Linked DNA regions of Homo sapiens: region 2 is linked to region 1. Evidence: fine-mapped expression QTL. A gene starts in region 1. The other region holds a variant in brackets. All regions are shown on one strand. Distances are between the middles of the regions.

Region 1 (2,911 bases):
ATAAACATTTTCTTCACCCATAATCACACATATCAAATTGGAACTGGTTACATAGATATAAATATCACAACCACCCAACCCCCAAATCCAAACATCATTTCCAAAAGCAAAAGAAAAAGGATTCCTTCTCCATATGGTACTGGGTCTTAAGGCTGGAATCTCTGAGAGAAGAGTCTTGCGTTATTGTTTAAACAACCTTTATTACCTGCCTCTGACATTCCCCAGGGTTACAGAGCAGGGGGCATCTGAGCCTCAAGTTCCACGGATGAAGCAGACACTGCAATAACAACTGAATCAATAGAGGAGAGGCATTTGGAAGTACTGGGGTGATACACCCAGTAATGGTAATCCTCAGCAGAAGATGGCATAGCTACCAAAAATCAGGCGTTACCACTGGGATGAAAACTGGGGAGGCAAGAAAATCATACGGTTGGAGTCATAGATCATTTCCCTCCCCGTTGAGCACTCCTCCCCCTTCCGTCCCCCATTAAGTTCATTCTATCCCACAGACTGGTCCTAGTGTCCTGCTAGCTCCCTGCTGAAAGAGAGAGGGAGGGAAAAGATGTCTGAGGTCTCTTCATTTCCTTTGTCTCTGTCCCTAAGGCAACTGGAAGCTGGAGCTGCTGCAGTCGGCCTGGCAAGCCCGTTGGCTCTGCAGAGTGAGCAGTCCCTGGCAGCCCCTGGAGCAGCTGCCAGTTAGACGGCCCAGAGTTCTGATAGAATGCATTGCTTCAGTTCAGTGCCAAGTGTTGGACGTGTTGGATTCAGTTCCCAGAGGGCTGGAGCGTGCTGTCAGGGCTGTCTGAAGACAAGAGAGCAGAGGCAGTTTAGTGCAGTTGGATGTGCGGGGTAGGGGTGGAGGCGCAGGGGTGAAGAGGGAGAAACTGGCCCGAATGGGTAAGGTGGTGCTTCTCCTTCCAGGGCCTTCCAGACAAGGTCTCCTGGCCTCTCACCATTATCTGGGCCTCAGATGAGGCGAACCCTGGAAGGGAGTTGGGGGTGGAAGGTGGGAGGCGCGCCCAGGGATGAGCGAGATGAGGAGGGCGCGAACCAGCAATCTGGGGCTGTGGTTTTAGACCCGCTCAGCGCCCTGGGCGAGGGCAGGCAGCCCCTCGGAGGCAAGCTGGCGGCGGCCCTCGGCCTGGGAGCCCGCGGCAGCCTCGGCGTCGGCGGTCAGGGCGCCTCCCGGGGCCCATTCGTGCTCGGCGCAAGCCTGGGACGGCTCGTCCTTGGCCTCGACGAGCTTACGGGAGCGGGTGTAGGCCAGGATGAGGCCTCCGGCCAAGCAGGCGTAGAAGATCATGATGAGCAGGATGTAGAGATAGGCGTCGTCGCCCTTGGCGCTGGTCACCTCGCGGCCCACGAAAGGGTCAGGCACGACCCCCATGCCCATGCTGGGACGAGGGCCAGCGCCCAAGCCGCTGGCATTACCCCGGTGGTGCAGCTCGAGCAACAGGCGGCTCAGAAGGGTTCGCAGCCGCTGGCTCTCGCTGCAGTTCATGGCTTTCGGGGAGTGACACGGCGGCTCCAGGACGCTGCTGACCTTTCCCCCTGGGCGAGGGGAAGCGAGCTAGCGAGCGGGCCGGCCGGCGGGCAGGGCTCAGCAGCGGAAACAGCGGTAGCACCCAGCTCTCCGGCGAGCGCGCAGTGGCTGGGGGCGCCGACGGCGGGGCCTCCTTATTCCCTCACTCCCGCCCCTCCTCCCCTTCCCCACCACGCCCCCTCCGGCCCGCGGCCGCCTCTTCCCAGGCTCTGGCTGTCTCGCTGCTCCAGGGAAAGGGGACAGCTGGTGGGGGGAGGAGAAGGGGACAAGAGTGGGGGCGAGGCTGGGAGACGGGCGGAGGGGGCGGGGGCTCGGAATGCGCGAGGCCCCAGGCAGCAGACGCTGGCAGGGCAGCTTGCTGGGGCCAAGCCTGGACCCTGGGCTGCGGAAGAGAATTCCTTCCAAGTTCTGGCCACCTGCCCTGCAGGCCAGGCTTTGGCCCAGATACAGCATTTGGCCCCCTAAGGCAGCTCTGCCTTGGGGCGCTCAAGGGAGAGGGCAGACGCCTTTCCGCAGCAGAGACCCCTTGTCCACATTTTATGGAAGTTACTCCCATATACAGGGACCCAGGCCTATCTTTCTAGTCCTCATTCCTTTCCTTTTCCCCCCGCCCCCCTTTTCACCCCCCTCCCACCTTGTCGGAGGAGAGCATCTTATTCAGAAGATGCTCAGGCTGAATTTGGTGACTGAGTGCTCAGGCACCTGCTAGAAGGCCAAGGCAGAGTAGAACTCCCTGGTTATCCAAAATGGTTTCTGGTGATATAAGTGATATTACACCTTCTTGGAAGCACCCCTGCTCTGATGTCCTATGACACTTTTTGAAAAGTCAACACATCTTAGCACATGAATGTACTATTCATAATGGGAGCCTGTTTCCCATGGGTAAGTAAGCCATCTTCCCAGAAGTGAAACCAAGTTCTTCCAATAAGAGTAGCATGCACATTTTAAAAGGCCCTTTGACTACACTCTGTGGATATCTCGGGATCTGAAAAGTGCCAGTTCTAGAGAATATGCTCACCCTACTCCCAGTTAGGCCAGCAAACAGCTGTGTGCCTCTCTAGACTTGGTAACAGGTCTAGGCCCTAATGGCTTTTAGGGCAGCCATTTTTTTCTCAAAGGCTGTCTTTTTTTAGGGGAAAACAAGGCACCAAGACAAAGATCAGGCCAGATATGTTAAATTGGAAACAGACTGAGCTTCACAAAGGAAAAGGGTTGGTTTGTAGATGGTGGGGTAGAAAAAATGAGGTAGTGCTGGCTAGGTCTGGTTGTCCATAGTTGCCAAATGAGAGCAGAAAGCAAGAAAAGTGTATGACCTTAGGCACACCTTGAAAATAATGCTGCCTGTTCAAGACCGTTCAGTCCAGGGAC
Region 2 (2,911 bases), 200 kb before region 1:
ACACTGCTAGTGGGAATGTAAACTAGTACAACTACTACGGAAAACAGTGTGGAGATTTCTTAAAGAACTAAGAGTAGAACTACCATTTCATTCAGTTTTCAATCCCACTACTGGATATCTACCCAGAGGAAAAGAAGTCATTATGTGAAAAAGATACTTGTACACGCATGTTTACAGCAGCACAATTTGCAATTGCAAAAATATGGAACCAGCCCAAATGCCCATCAATCAACGAGTGGATAAAGAAATTGTTGTGTGTGTGTGTGTGTGTGTGTGTGTGTGTGTATAGATATGATATATATGTATATATATATATTATATGTGTGTACATATATATCACATCATATATACATATATTTATATATATGATGGAATACCACTCAGCCATGAAAAGGAATGAATTAATGGCATTTACAGCAACCTGGATGGAACTAGAGACTATTATTCTAAGTGAAGTAGCTTAGGAATGGGAAACTCAACATCGTATGTTCTCACTCATAAGTGGGAGCTAAGTTATGAGGATGCAAAGGCATAAGAATGATACAAAGGACTTTGGGGACTCGGGGGAAAGGGTGGGAGGGGGGCGAGAGATAAACGACTACAAATTGGGTTCAGTGTATACTGCTTAGGTGATGGGTGCACAAAAATCTCACAAATTGCCACTAAAGAACTTATTCATGTAACCAAATACTACCTGTTCCCCCCAAAAAACTATGGAAATAAATTTTTTTAAGAAATTAAGTCTATGAAAAGAAAAAAAGACAATCTTAGTAGCTCTAGTGGGAGATGATGGTGCTTGGACCAGGATACTAATAGTAAAAATCGAGAAAGAGAAGGACATTGGAGCTTCAAGGAAAATGGAGAAGCTTTGATGTATGGGTGGTAGGAAGTGAATTAACCAATGAAGTATAATGGAATTATGAGGTAGTAGTAAGGGACATTTAAATATAAGAAACCATGAATTTATAGTGGAAACAATATACTTTGCTGCATAACTTTCTGCTACAATATTTGGCTGTTCAAGTGCAAGCACAAAGAAAGTTAAGAGTTGGGATCATACAGAACTAGAGTTTTGCAAGTGTGTCTGACCAAAAAGACAGAAATATTAATAAGAACATGTTCAAATGATAGACTATAGACTCTGAATTGGACAATAAAGTAAATAAAACAAGGGCTTGTGAGTTTGGAGAAAGCAGAGGTCAGTAGACTGGAAGACCTGATATAGTCAAATATAGGCACAGTTGGGATAAAAGGAGGTTGTAATCAGAGAGTGTGATGAATTCATAATTTGGGAGGTGAAGCATTTTCTTTTTTCTATTTTTTGAGACGGAGTCTTGGTCTGTCGCCCAGGCTGGAGTGCAGTGGCGTGATCTCGGCTCACTGCAAGCTC[C/T]GCCTCCCGGGTTCACGCCATTCTCCTGTCTCAGCCTCCTGAGTAACTGGGACTACAGGCACCGGCCACCACGCCTGGCTAATTTTTTTGTATTTTTAGTAGAGACGGGGTTTCACCGTGTTAGCCAGGATGGTGTCGATCTCCTGACCTTGTGATCCGCCCGCCTCGGCCTCCCAAAGTGCTGGGATTACAGGCGTGAGCCACCACACCCGGCCAGGTGAAGCATTTTCAGTAGCAGTTATAGAAGATGGAAAAGCAGAAGGTATTAATATAATGGTAGCAGTGTTTGGCCAAAGTAGAATGGAAGAGAAGATTATTAGGATGATATGGCAAAGAATGAAATAGTCAAGATATATAGTTGTCCACAGTCCATGTCCAATTGATGTCACCAGCATAACAGCAGGTCTTGGAGTAGAGAGGAGGACCATGATACATATCCCAAAATATTCAATAAATTAAGGGTAGCGAATATGGAGAGTAGATGGAAGTAACAGGAGGTGTAGAAGATGCTAAAACAGAGAATGGCATTAGCCTCAAAAGCTTGTGAATGTGTTTAACAAAGGCAAAAGAATCATTGTTTGGGAAGCGTCATCAGTAAGCAGGGGATACAATTTCACCACATGGTCATGATCTTGAGGTACTGAGGCATAATAACAGCCCCACTGGAGAAGAAATGGCTACAGGGAAGATAATATTCTCAATAGAGGCTCTAGAATGGCCCCAAATATTTTTTCACAAAGTAAACACTTTGTTTCACAGCAACTGCAGTTTCCTTCTCTTCACATTTCTTAAAGAAAGAGACACTCTCTAACAACTGAGAATTTCCTTTAAAGAACTCCAGGATACTTTCCATTTGCCTTTATAGGAGTACAGGGAATATGCCAATCAGTTCCACATTATGGGGAAGAACATGAGACTAAGAGATACAGCCTAATTTTCCTGCACGCAATTTTGCAGAAGTTGTGATCTTAAAAGATGTTGGAAATTATCAGCTCTGTGGCCTTCTGACTCCAGCTGTTTGTTTTTCAAGGACATCCATCCCATTGTGCACTGCTCCTTTCTATATCTGGCTCACAAAGATCTGCTTTCCATCTGGATCCTGGTACCCAGCCCTAACGTTTTGAGGTCATGAATACACATAAGTAGTCAAGGCAGTGCTGGACTCACAGTGACACTATGATCAGATCCACCTCCAGCTTCAAAAAAGCATTCAACTAAAAAGCATTAAAGCACATCTACATGGTAAATTCTAGAAAATCCTGGCTTTCTAAGTTTGAGTTACACTCTATACCTGACATGGCCACCCAAGTCAGTGAAGGAAACACATAAACAGATGTCATGAGGATAATGGGAAGGCAGTTTTTTCACTGTCAGAGAAGGAAATTACAAATATGGAAAAGTTAAAAAAGAAACGGAATTAACACTGTGGCACTGGATTAGAATTAGAGAGTTTAGTATGAATTTATGGTTTTAGATAGACAGATTGATTGATATGAATATTATAGATACTAATTGAATAAA

Alleles and levels. Alleles are on the strand shown, and positions count from the first base shown. SD is a standard deviation of normalised expression in the study named.
For the expression in testis of the gene that starts at base 1,653 in region 1, allele C in region 2 goes with a higher level than allele T (moderate effect, 0.57 SD a copy in GTEx).

The links. PIP is the estimated chance that this variant, and not a neighbour inherited with it, causes the effect.
Region 2: its variant is fine-mapped to the expression of KCNE5 in testis (GTEx, PIP above 0.99).

The regions. Positions count from the first base shown.
Region 1 is chrX:109,623,520-109,626,430 of GRCh38, forward strand. It overlaps KCNE5 (potassium voltage-gated channel subfamily E regulatory subunit 5), which reads right to left and starts at 1,653. Exons shown (of 1, transcript NM_012282.4): 1 at 181-1,653. The coding sequence starts at 1,501. The coding sequence ends at 1,073.
Region 2 is chrX:109,425,084-109,427,994 of GRCh38, forward strand. All of the region lies in intron 8 of GUCY2F (guanylate cyclase 2F, retinal), which reads right to left. Among named protein-coding and RNA genes, the nearest start is that of GUCY2F, 56 kb to the right of the region's middle. The variant C/T (reference allele first, on the strand shown) is at 1,391.